2 linked regions of the Homo sapiens genome follow. The protein of the gene in region 1 interacts with the protein of each later gene in a pairwise test. Each region holds a gene or a part of one and is shown in the gene's direction. Other genes may lie near its edges.

The links. The genes of interacting proteins can lie anywhere in the genome.
Region 2: the proteins of ZNF474 (region 1) and PFKFB1 interact in binary tests that used the Homo sapiens proteins (3 or more experiments, as listed by UniProt).

Annotation. Positions count from the first base shown.
Region 1 is NC_000005.10:122,125,329-122,132,545, forward strand, and holds the start of ZNF474 (zinc finger protein 474), read left to right. Parts: upstream 1-4,217; 5' UTR 4,218-4,355; exon of another isoform or gene 4,356-4,513; intron 4,514-7,217.
Region 2 is NC_000023.11:54,932,461-54,936,228, reverse strand, and holds the end of PFKFB1 (6-phosphofructo-2-kinase/fructose-2,6-bisphosphatase 1), read left to right. Parts: exon of another isoform or gene 1-1,212; intron 1,213-1,219; coding exon 1,220-1,282; intron 1,283-2,343; coding exon 2,344-2,408; intron 2,409-2,766; coding exon 2,767-2,826; 3' UTR 2,827-3,268; downstream 3,269-3,768. UniProt on the Homo sapiens protein: Synthesis and degradation of fructose 2,6-bisphosphate.

The DNA of each region.
Region 1 (7,217 bases):
TTGCACTATTTTAAATGTAGACATTTTACAGTTCAGTCTAGTACAGTATATAAAACTCAGTTTATACAAAGCCTGTTCTTGTGACAAAAGGCGTATTTGAAAAATGACTCTCTCTTTTGAGGTCAGACTCATAATAAAAACATTGCCAGGACAGATAGAAGGATTTCTGTCTTTTGATCTCCCTTCCTATGGACAGGGAATGTTTCTTCAGTGTTATATATAATGTTTCTTCAGTGTTTCTTCAAGCCTCCTGTTTCGGAGACATGAAGGTCTAGGTTTTAAATGTTTACTCAGTCTGGGCAAGTCATAGAAAATATTATTTATTGGGTATGGGAATATGGCAGCAAGATCTAGCAGAAGGCAGCGAAGGGAAGCCATTTGGGCACCAGAAAGATACACATGTCCATCCCAGATTTGCTTTGGAATAGCCTTGTCAATGGGGCAAGTTGCTTAATGCTCTTGAGCCTCAGTTTTCTAATCTGTCAAACAAGGATACTAATGCCTACCTTGTAGGATGGTTAAAAGATTTGAGATAACGGATGTCAGGTGGCTGGAACTTGCTGTTTCGGAGTTAGGCGATAAGAATGAAGTAAACAATAATTAGGTAGACAAGAACAAGGCACTCAGTGCACCTATTTTGCCAGACTTCACAAACATCCTGTTTGGATCCCTGCTGCTGCCATTGCAATTTTTTTTTCTCACAGAATGTAGTCTCTGCCAAGTTTAAATAAACTCCAAAGGATTATTGGTAGCTTGCAAAGTAAGATTTGGGCTTTGCATCAGTGAAGAGTCTTGAGGATAGGCAGAGATACCAACAAGGAGAAGCATTTCTCCTGCTCCATGAAAATGTGATTCATTCCTTCAATGAAAAAGTCAGGGGCTTGTGCAGGCACAACAGCTGTGGTTTTATGAAGGGAAAATAATCCAGAATTCCTTGTGGTGGGGCTGCTCCCACAAGGGGTCAGATCTGGATTATTGCTGGAGGCTGGCATCATCCCACAGTGACACAAGCATGATTGGATATCACATAACTTGAAATAACTGGCAATTGTTTTAGGTGAGAAAAGCTCAAGCAAGAGCAAACCAGACCAGCTCAAGTAAAGGCTTCAGTGTCTTTGATCTGGGTCTGACTTGAATGCCTGGAGTCAGAACAGAAGAAGGAACACGGTTATCTTTGAAGCTCACACTGGTTGCTGGTTGCCCACTCAACAGATGTGAGCAGTTTAGTTGTCACCATAAATCAAGGGCTCCCCCACAATGTTATAAATAGGGATGGGTAAATATTTTGGATTCATCAACCTCCAAGTATGCCTCAGATGTTTTGGGTTCAACTAAACAGAATACATCATGCAAAACACATACCCTCCTTGATTTTTTAGGACCGTATGTGATTTATGGAAAATAGAATCCATATGTTTCTGCTTCATTTACACTTAAATCTTCAAAAGGTTGTGTGTTGTAAGAGCTTTTTGATGTCGAAGATGCCTCTGCGCATGCTTAAAAAAAAAAAAAAATACGAGCAGCTTAAAAGTTTTGGTCGCTCGGAAAGACCAGAGAGACACAGAGACAGGGAGAAGGAGACAGAGACAGAGCACCCAGGAACGCCTGTTTTGCCAAGATGAAATACATTTGAACACCAGGAAGTTCAATTCTGACTGAAACTATAAACCCATGAATTAAAAATGAGTCCAGAATTTGGGAAGAAACAAAGGCTCCACTCCAGCCAGTTTTAGAAGCAGCTTCGATGAATACAGAAAAGCAGCTGGCAACTCAGCCACAGCACCAGGGAAGAGACGGCCGTGAGTGCACCATCAGCTACAGCTAACAAAGCCTGCAAGCTCTGTTATTCTTGGGCCTCCTAAGAGTTGCTCCAGCCAGGATAGAGACTCTGCCCTGCTTTAGCTCAGAAATATCCACTCTCGTGATGTTTTCCTGAGGTTGTCCTGTCATAGGCCAACACTTCCTGTCTCTTCTGCCATCTGGCCCAAATAGCCAGCCACTGGACTGAATATTGGGTGTGCATTTGGGATGATGTTTATTTATTGGGCACTTTCTTTAGAGAAAGATCACATTTAGTTCACAATAAGGCCGATAAAACATGCAGTTTGTGTAAAGTGAAAAGTGTGTTAACTAGGGGCCTACAGGTCAGTAAAAGGCAACAGGTAAAACAGGGTTTTCTTGCCGCCATCTCAACATTTACTCACTGATATTATATCAGCTCTATGTCATTGTATGCATGTATTATTATTTGTATATGTATCGTATGATTTCAGAAGCATCTTAATTAGAAATATTTTATATCATAAATTAGATATCTAGAATAGTTAGAGCGTTATTGCAAGTTAGGATGTGAAACGTTACTGTCCCTTGGGATCTCTAGACTGTGTGGCCTGAAGAGTCACTTCAGCAGAATTAAGAGTCCTGTGAATTACCTCCATATCCCAATTACATTATCTGGGGACAAGGAGCAGGGCTGGGGAATATTAGAGGTCAAGTTTTTGTTCTTTTTTTTTTTTTTTTTGCTAACCAGTAAGGAACATTCAGTAAAAATGTTCCTTAATCTCACCACTCATAGGTAGCCACTGTTAACACTGGGATGTATATTCTTTGAGTTAATTGTGTGTTTGTGTGCACATGAGCACACACAAAGAATTTGATGAGATTATACTATTTATTCTGTTTTGTAGCTTCTCTTTTTCATTTAGCAATATATTGTAAACTTTTTCCCAGGTCAATAAACTGTTGCCTCATAAGCTTTAATGCTTGCAGAATATTTAATTGTAGAATTGTACTACAATTATCTTAATATCTCAGAGTATTTTGAAATACGAATCTTGAAAACACTGCTTCAGATATATTTTTAAATACTGGCCTTAGTTTTTAAAATATTTTCTATGTTTTAGGACATGTTAGAAAAATAGATTAAGCATAGCTTCTACATCTTGTGGTTGCTTGCCTTTTAGACCAAAACATAGAACATGCTTTGAGAGCCATGGAGACTATCCATCTTCCCTGTTTTAGAGGAGACCAAGCTCTTCTTCTTCTTCTTTTTTTTTTTTTTTTTTTTTTTTTTTGAGATGGAGTTTCGCTCTTGTTGCTCAGGCTGGAGTGCAACGGCGCTATCTTGGCTCACTGCAACCTACACCTCTCGAGTTCAAGCGATTATCCTGCCTCAGCCTCCCAAGTAGCTCGGATTACAGGTGTGTGCCACCATGCCCGGCTAATTTTTGTATTGTTAGTACAGACTGGGTTTCACCATGTTGACCACGCTGGTCTTGAACTCCTGACCTCAGGTGATCCACCCGCCTCAGCTTCCCAAAGTGTTGGGATTACAGGTGTGAGCCACTGCGACTGGCCCAAGCTCTTCTATATAGATGGTATTAGTATTAGTCAGGGTTCTCTAGAGGGACAGAACTAATAGAATAGATGTGTATATGATGGGAAGTTTATTAAAATGTATTGACTCACATGATCACAGGGTAAAGTTCCACAATAGGCCATCTGCAAGCTGAGGAGTAGGGAAGCCCAAAACCTCAAAAGTAGGGAAGCCGACAGTGCAGCCTTCAGTCTGTGTCCAAAGGCCTGAGAGCCCCTGGCAAACCACTGGTGTAAGTCCGAGAGTCCAAAAGCTGAAGACCTGGAGTCCAATGCTCTAAGGCAGGAAGCATCCAGCATGGGAGAAAGCTGAAGACCAGAAGACTCAGCAAGTCAAGTCCTTCCACATTTTCCTGCTTTATTCTGGCCACACTGGCAGCTGATTAGATGGTGCCCACCCAGATTGAGGGTGGGTCTGCCTTTCCCAGTCCACTGACTGGAATGTTAATCTCCTTTGGCAACACCCTCACAGACACACCCAGGAACAATACTTTGCATCCTTCAATCCAATCAAGTTGACACTCAATATTAACCGTTACAGTATTTTTTAAAGTCCCTAGAAAAGATCAATAAGATAATCAGTAAATATTGTTTTCTTTTCTTCTTTAAAATAAAACGCTGTGTTTCTACATCAAGAAGAGCCTGTGACTTAAATTTATCTGTCCCTGTTGGTTGCTCAGTCCATCGGTAAAGTTCCTGGAGTCAATTTAAAAGAAAGCTGAAATCCATACCTACTTTGCTCTGTTTCCCATCAGTTACTAGAGAACTCAGTCCCGTCCCTTTTGTTGACAGGTTGCCAGGATACATCCAGGCAACAAAGACTGCGGTTCCTGTTACTCAGCAGCCTCAAAAACTCACACCAGCTCCTGCAAGGAATGTGAATCTTGGAGCTCCCAGCTATTCTGTTCCTGTTTCTGTCAGCTCCTTCCCTGAAAACTCAGAGGTGCTCAGCATGCCATGCTAAAAGGCAAAATAAAAAGGTAAAGAACAAATGTCACAAGGTGAGGCTCTCGCAGGGTGTGTGCATTCTCTGTTGTCTGGTAGGTCTTAAACCTTTCAACTAATAACAACTGCTTCTCTTAGATATTCTTGTTCTCTTCCATTGGCTTCTCACCAGTATTCAGTAAATATTTCCTTGCTATTGGGAAGAAATACAAATGACGATAATAATAATAATTAGTTCTTAAGTGAAAAATCTCAAGTATTACTAAACAAAACAATAAATGTCATTTTACTTCTTTGGATGCTGACAATGATGAGTGAACTATGGATTAGATGTTCTAATACCTAAAAAATAATAAAATTGTATTTAAAAGAATGATTTTTAAAATAACTTTCTTCAAAGAAAAGTAGATGAAGTCAGGTTTTAACATTAATTCAGAACTATATGTTTATTAGCCAGATTATCCATGAAAGAAAAGGGGTATTAAAGGCTATAATTACTCAGTTGTCTTGGCTTTTTTTTTAATTATTTGAGATAAAATCAACATGGAGTAAATTGTAACCAATCTTGAGTTCTTAAATTCAAGTTTCTAAAATCAATGAGTTTAACAGGTATATACAACCATGTCATGGTCACCTCAGTCAGGGCACGGGACATTTATTTCACCCTGGAATGTTTCCTCACATCCTTTCCAGCCAATCTTCCCTCCACAGGGGGCCACTGTTTTGATTTCTGTCCTCAAAGAATAGTTGGCCATTCATGAACTTTATATGAATAGAATGATACCATATATATTATATTGTCAGACTGACGTCTCTGGCTCAGCAGAATGTTTTTTCAAGCATTTCAATGTGGGTTTTTAAGTCAGTAGTACAATTCTTTTTAAAGGTAAGTATAATTGCATTATATGCTTATTTTACATTTGTTTATTACATTGATTGGTAGTTTGTTTGTTTCTAGTTTGGTCCTCTTATAGCTAAAGCAGCTATAAAGATTCTTCCACAAAGTATTTTTCTCCTAATTTTATTTTTTATGTCTAACTTTTTTCCAGCTTTATTGAGGTATGACTGACAAATAAAAATCACATGTATTTGGGGTTTCTCATGAAATGTGTTGACATATGTAGACATTGTGAAATGATTACCACAATCAAGCTAATTGAAGTATTCATCATATCACATAGTTACCTTTTTTTGGCTGTGGTGAGAATGCTTGAGATCTACTATCTTAACACATTTCAATTATTATTAATTATAATAATTCTTAATTATAATCACAATGCTGTACATTAGGTTTCTAGCATTTACTCATCTTATAGCTGAAGGTTTGTACCCTTTGCCTATCTTCCCTTCGTCTCATCCTCCACTCATGGTAACCATTATTGCACTCAACAGGTAGGTATATGAAGATGCTCACCATCACTAATCATTAGGGAAATGCAAATAAAAATCACAAGGAGATATTACCATACATTTGTGAGAATGGCTGTTAAAAAGATAAAAGATAACAAGTGTTGGTGAGAATGTGGAGAAATGGGAACCCTTATACACTGTTTGTGGGATTGTAATTTAATACAGCCATTATGGATTATGGAAAACAATATGGAAGTTCCTCAAAAAGTTAAAAGGAGAACTACCATCTGATCTAGCAATCCCACTGCTGGGTATATATCCAAAGAAAATGAAATTAGTATATTAAAGAGATATCTACACTTCCTTGTTCATTGCAGCATTATTAACAATGGTCCATATGTGGTAACAAATTATCTATCAACAGATAAATGGATAAAGAAAATGTGGTATAAACATACAATAGAATATTATTGAACCTTAAAAAAGAAGAAAATACTGCTATTTTCAACAACATGGGTGAAACTTGAGGACATTATACTAAGTGAAATAAGCCAGATAAGGAAAGACAAACACTATGTGATCTCACTTATATGTGGGGAAAAAAAAAGAAGCCTGCACAAGTCTTATTAGATATATGTTTTTATTTATTCTGGATTCGGACCCAGGAGTGAAACTAATGAGTGATAGGGTAGATATTTGTAATAAATATGGAATAATATGTCACAGTGGTCATAATTTGCATATTCCTGATGACTAATGGAGTACTTTTCATGAACTTCTTGGAGATTTGTATCTTTTTAAAAATTATCTATTCATACCTTTTACCCATTTAACATTTTTTCTTTTTAATGTCTTTTTCATTGATGTATAACTCACATATAATAAAATGCACCCATTTTAAGTACAAAATTTGATGAGTTTTGACAAATGATTATATCCATGAACCAACAAAGACGTAAATATAAGAAAACGTCCATTAACCTTTGTAGTCAATTTTCCTTTCATGCACCTACCCACCAAACAATAACTGATATACTTTCTGTCACTACAGATTAGCTTTGCTTATTCATAGAAATGGAATAATTAAGTACCTATACTTCTTTAGCATTTGACTTTTTCGGCAGCACATTATTCAAAGGGATCCATGTAGTGTATATTAGTAGTTTGTTCATTTGTATTGTGAAACAATATTCTATTGTATGAATATGCTATAATTTTGTATTCATTTATCCATTGATGTATATTTATGTTATTTCCAGTTTTTCACTACTATGAGTAAAGCTACTGTAAACATTTGTAAATGACTTTTTGTGGACATATACTTTCATTTTTTTAGGTAATTATTTAAAATGTCAATACCATTGGGTATTTTAGAATTTAACTTTATAAAGTTAAATTTTTAGATAATCCAATTTTTAAATATATGTCTTGCAAACAGTTCTTCCCAATCTATGTCTTGCCTTTTAATTTTCTTAATTTTTTTAATGTGCAGAAGTTTATAATTAAGAGAAAGTATAATTTATTATGTTTTCTTTTATACTTAGTTC
Region 2 (3,768 bases), on another chromosome or scaffold:
GAGAGAAGAGCCCGGGCCAAGGTCATTAGTGGAGGCAGTGGCAGAGCTGGGTCAGAGATCTCAGGCAAGTCACTTCCCTTCTCCGAGTCTGTTTCCTCAAGTGTACAAGGAGGGTGTACAGTAGTACCTCAATCTAGCTTTAAGGGTGTCATGAGGTAGTGGGCAAAACACCCTTGGCCCAGGGCCTGATGATGACAAAAACAAGGAGGAGCAGCAGGATGGATGCCCAGGAAGGAAAAAAGCCAACCTAATGTCTCAGGAGGCTGGGAGGGCAGTGGCAGACCTCAGAAACCTAGGGTGGAACCTGCTGTTGAGGGAAGCCATGAGGGTCGGTGATCCTGCAAAATGAAGGGAAATGGGTAGCGTTATGTGCAGGTGGGCAGGAAAGTGGGTGTCAGGAGAGAGTGCCTAGCAGGTGGGTTTATCACCCCCAGGACACTGCAAGCCCCTGGATGGCAGGGGCAGTTGACAGTAGGGGCCAGTGCATGCATTCTGGCCTCACAGGGTCCCAGGTTCAAGGCCTTGCTCTGCTGCTTCCTGGCTGTGTGACTTGCGGAGAGCATTTTCCCTCTCAAGGCCTCAGTTGGCTGAGACCATGAAATGGGCTTACTGTCCCCACCTCTTGGGCTTGCCTGAGAAATGGAAACATAGACCCAGACAAGAATGCATATGAATATTCAGAACAACTTTATGCATAATGTCAATAACTGGAAACAAGTGAATGCACAAATGCTTGTCCATCACCAGGCCTGAGGCAGGGATGATCAGAGGGAGCGGGCCAGGCTGGGAGAAGGCTGTGGGAGCTGTCCACTGCCACAGCAGGGTCTCAAAAAACACTTGCTGACGTGAACTGTGGGCCTTTGTGGTGTGGGGTCTGCTGAAGGCCCCAGGCTTGGGGCGGGAGAGAAGCCTGCCTGGGTCTCATTTGTCCTGTGAGTGAGGTGGTGGCCGTCTCCAGGGTGGCCGGCCCAACCCTCCTGCAGGACACCCAGTCCAGTCTACCACCATTTTCCAAGGCATTCCTGCCTCCCTGCTCTCCTCCTCTCTTCCCAGGTGCTCTCAGTGCTGCCCCTGCAGGGTGTGGGGAGTGGGCCCCTGGTGAGGCCCCACCACGGCAAGGGGACATGGAATGGGGAGCATCCAGCAAGCCTGGGGGCCTGGGGAGGCTGTGTCCTGGCCAGCACCCTGCCTCTGAGGGCTGCTTCCTGTTCCTTTCTAGATGAGCTTCCATATCTCAAGTGCCCTCTGCACACAGTGCTCAAACTCACTCCTGTGGCTTATGGTAAGTACTCCCACCCTGATCAAAGGACAGGCATATAGAGGCTATGAGCATGGCCCTAGTGCCTACCATTTGCCCAGAAGAGTCCTGCAGGAGGTTTCCTGGGTGGGTGTCCTGCAGGAGGTTCCCTTAGTGGGTGGTGGGGGTGGGACTGATGGTAGTAGGATAACAGGGAAAGAGTAGGATGGTTTCTAAATCTGGGGCTGGCTCTGACTCTGTGTCTTTGCCAGAGCACCCAGCACAGAGCACCAAGCTGTGGAAGGGGGATTCCCCAAAGGGGACCAGAGGAAAATTATAGGTTAGGGCCGTATTGGAGAAAGAGCACAAAGACCAGCCTGGGCAGTTTAGGGTCTTTCTTGGGACATTAGCTATGAAAGGTTCATGAACAGGGGAGGGACAGAATCAAATCTATTCTGGGGTGCGAACAGGGCAGATGACCTACTGAAGCCTGGAGTAAGGTGCAGTCCACAGGGATGAAGCTAAGGGAGCTTCCACAGGCATTAGGCCCCCTCTGTCAGCCCCAAGCCCCAATGATGCACCCTCATCCGTCTTCAGGTTTCCTAAAACTCCCAGGTGAACTTCCATACTCCTGGTGTTGCCACAACCACATTGTCCTCCAGATAAACTTTGCCTGGCACTGATCGCCCAAGGCAGTGGCCCCAGGACTCTTCCACCTCTTCACCACCTAACACGGCTTGGAGGATCCGCAGAGCTACATCAATATTACATAGATGAGACTGCTGTCCTGCGGACCTCAAGAGCTGTGGGCAGCCAGAGTTCATCTCTCATCTCCATCCCCATTTACAAATGAGCACCTGAAGCTCAGCGAACTAAGACTGTTAGGGGCAGAGGTGACAGGATACCCTGTTGGCTGCCTCTTAGGCCTGGTGTCTTCCCCACACATCACATAGCTGTCTAAATTCTCCTCCATACAGGCGAGTCATGATCTGTACACAGTATGAAGCTGGGGGTGTGGCTGGTGATGGGGGAGGGGAGGTGATACCTCAGGGAAGACCTGTGCCTACCTTGGGGGCCTATGGACAGATGGATTGTTCTTTTCTAAGGCTGCAAAGTGGAATCCATCTACCTGAATGTGGAGGCCGTGAACACACACCGGGAGAAGCCTGAGGTAGGTGGGGGACTCCATGGCCCAAGCTGGCTGTGGACACAGCACATGGTGAAAGCACCTTATCCACAGAAAGGCTGCCCCAACCCCACCAAGCCTGGGTGTTTTGCACCAACAGATGGAGCAAACAGCACCCAGAAATGCAGAAACCACAACCCAGACACGAGGCACCATGGAGATGCAAGGCTGGGGCAATTCCCGCCTAAAAGGCCTCAGGCTGAGATTCCCCCAGGCCTACCTGAGGGTCAGGATCCGGGCCTGGCTGAAAGAGGGGAGCCTGGCAATGAAGACAAGAGGCAGGGGAGAGGTTGGGGCCCTGCACTGCTGTCTCCTTCCTATTAATCCTGCGCTCTCTCCTCAGAATGTGGACATCACCCGGGAACCTGAGGAAGCCCTGGATACTGTCCCAGCCCACTACTGAGCCCTTTCCAAGAAGTCAAACTGCCTGTGTCCTCATCGCCTTCCACCTTTAGGAAATGCTATCTTTGCTCTTCTCCTACTCTGCCTTGGCCTCACTGAGGCACCCCACTTCCAGTGAAGAAGTCCTCCGCAACTCCCAAACAAGCCTCGCTTGCTGGCCGCAACCAAGGAGCTATCTAGCTCTGGAGGAAACTTTCTTTCTTAATTCCTATTCTCTGACGAATAAAGACTTACTGCCTACAAGAGGAGAGGAGGAGGTCATGGCGAGGCTTTTCCAGTTGTTCTCAAGGTACTGACCCTAATCCTGACCCAGCTCTGCTGCTGTGAGGGCATGGAATGGGTGAGGATTTCCTGGAGGGAAAAGTTCTACAGTAGCACCTCCAAAGATGGGGGAGAAGATAGGTGCCTGTGAGTTCCTGTGGGCCTTGTTCCAGCAAGGTGGCTGTGGGCATGACACTTTCATCCTTATACTCAGGGAAGAATCTGGCACTTGAGCCAAGTGCTCCTTTCTTCTCCAACTCTTGCTGCCATCCTGAGTGATTTCACTGTTTATGTGAATGATCCAACCAATACTCTGGCCTCACAGTCCCCTGACCCCCTCAACTCCAGTGATCATCTTCTCCCCTTCAACCACCTACTCCATGGATTTTGGTATCATCTCCCTGGTCTGACTTCTTAAACGTAAGCATCCAACTGTCTGACCACTGCCCACCCACTACCCCAGTCCTTACAACTCTCTGTCATCCACTGAATCCCTAGCAGTGTGCCTCCATACAGTAGGCATATATGTAGTATTTTCTTCTTTTTTTTTGAGACAGGGTCTCACTCTGTCACCCAGGCTGAAGTGCAGTGGTGCAATCTCAGCTCACTGCAGCCTCAAACTCCTGGGCTTAAGCAATCCTCCCACCTCAGCCTCTCTCACAAGGAGCTGGGACCACAGGTG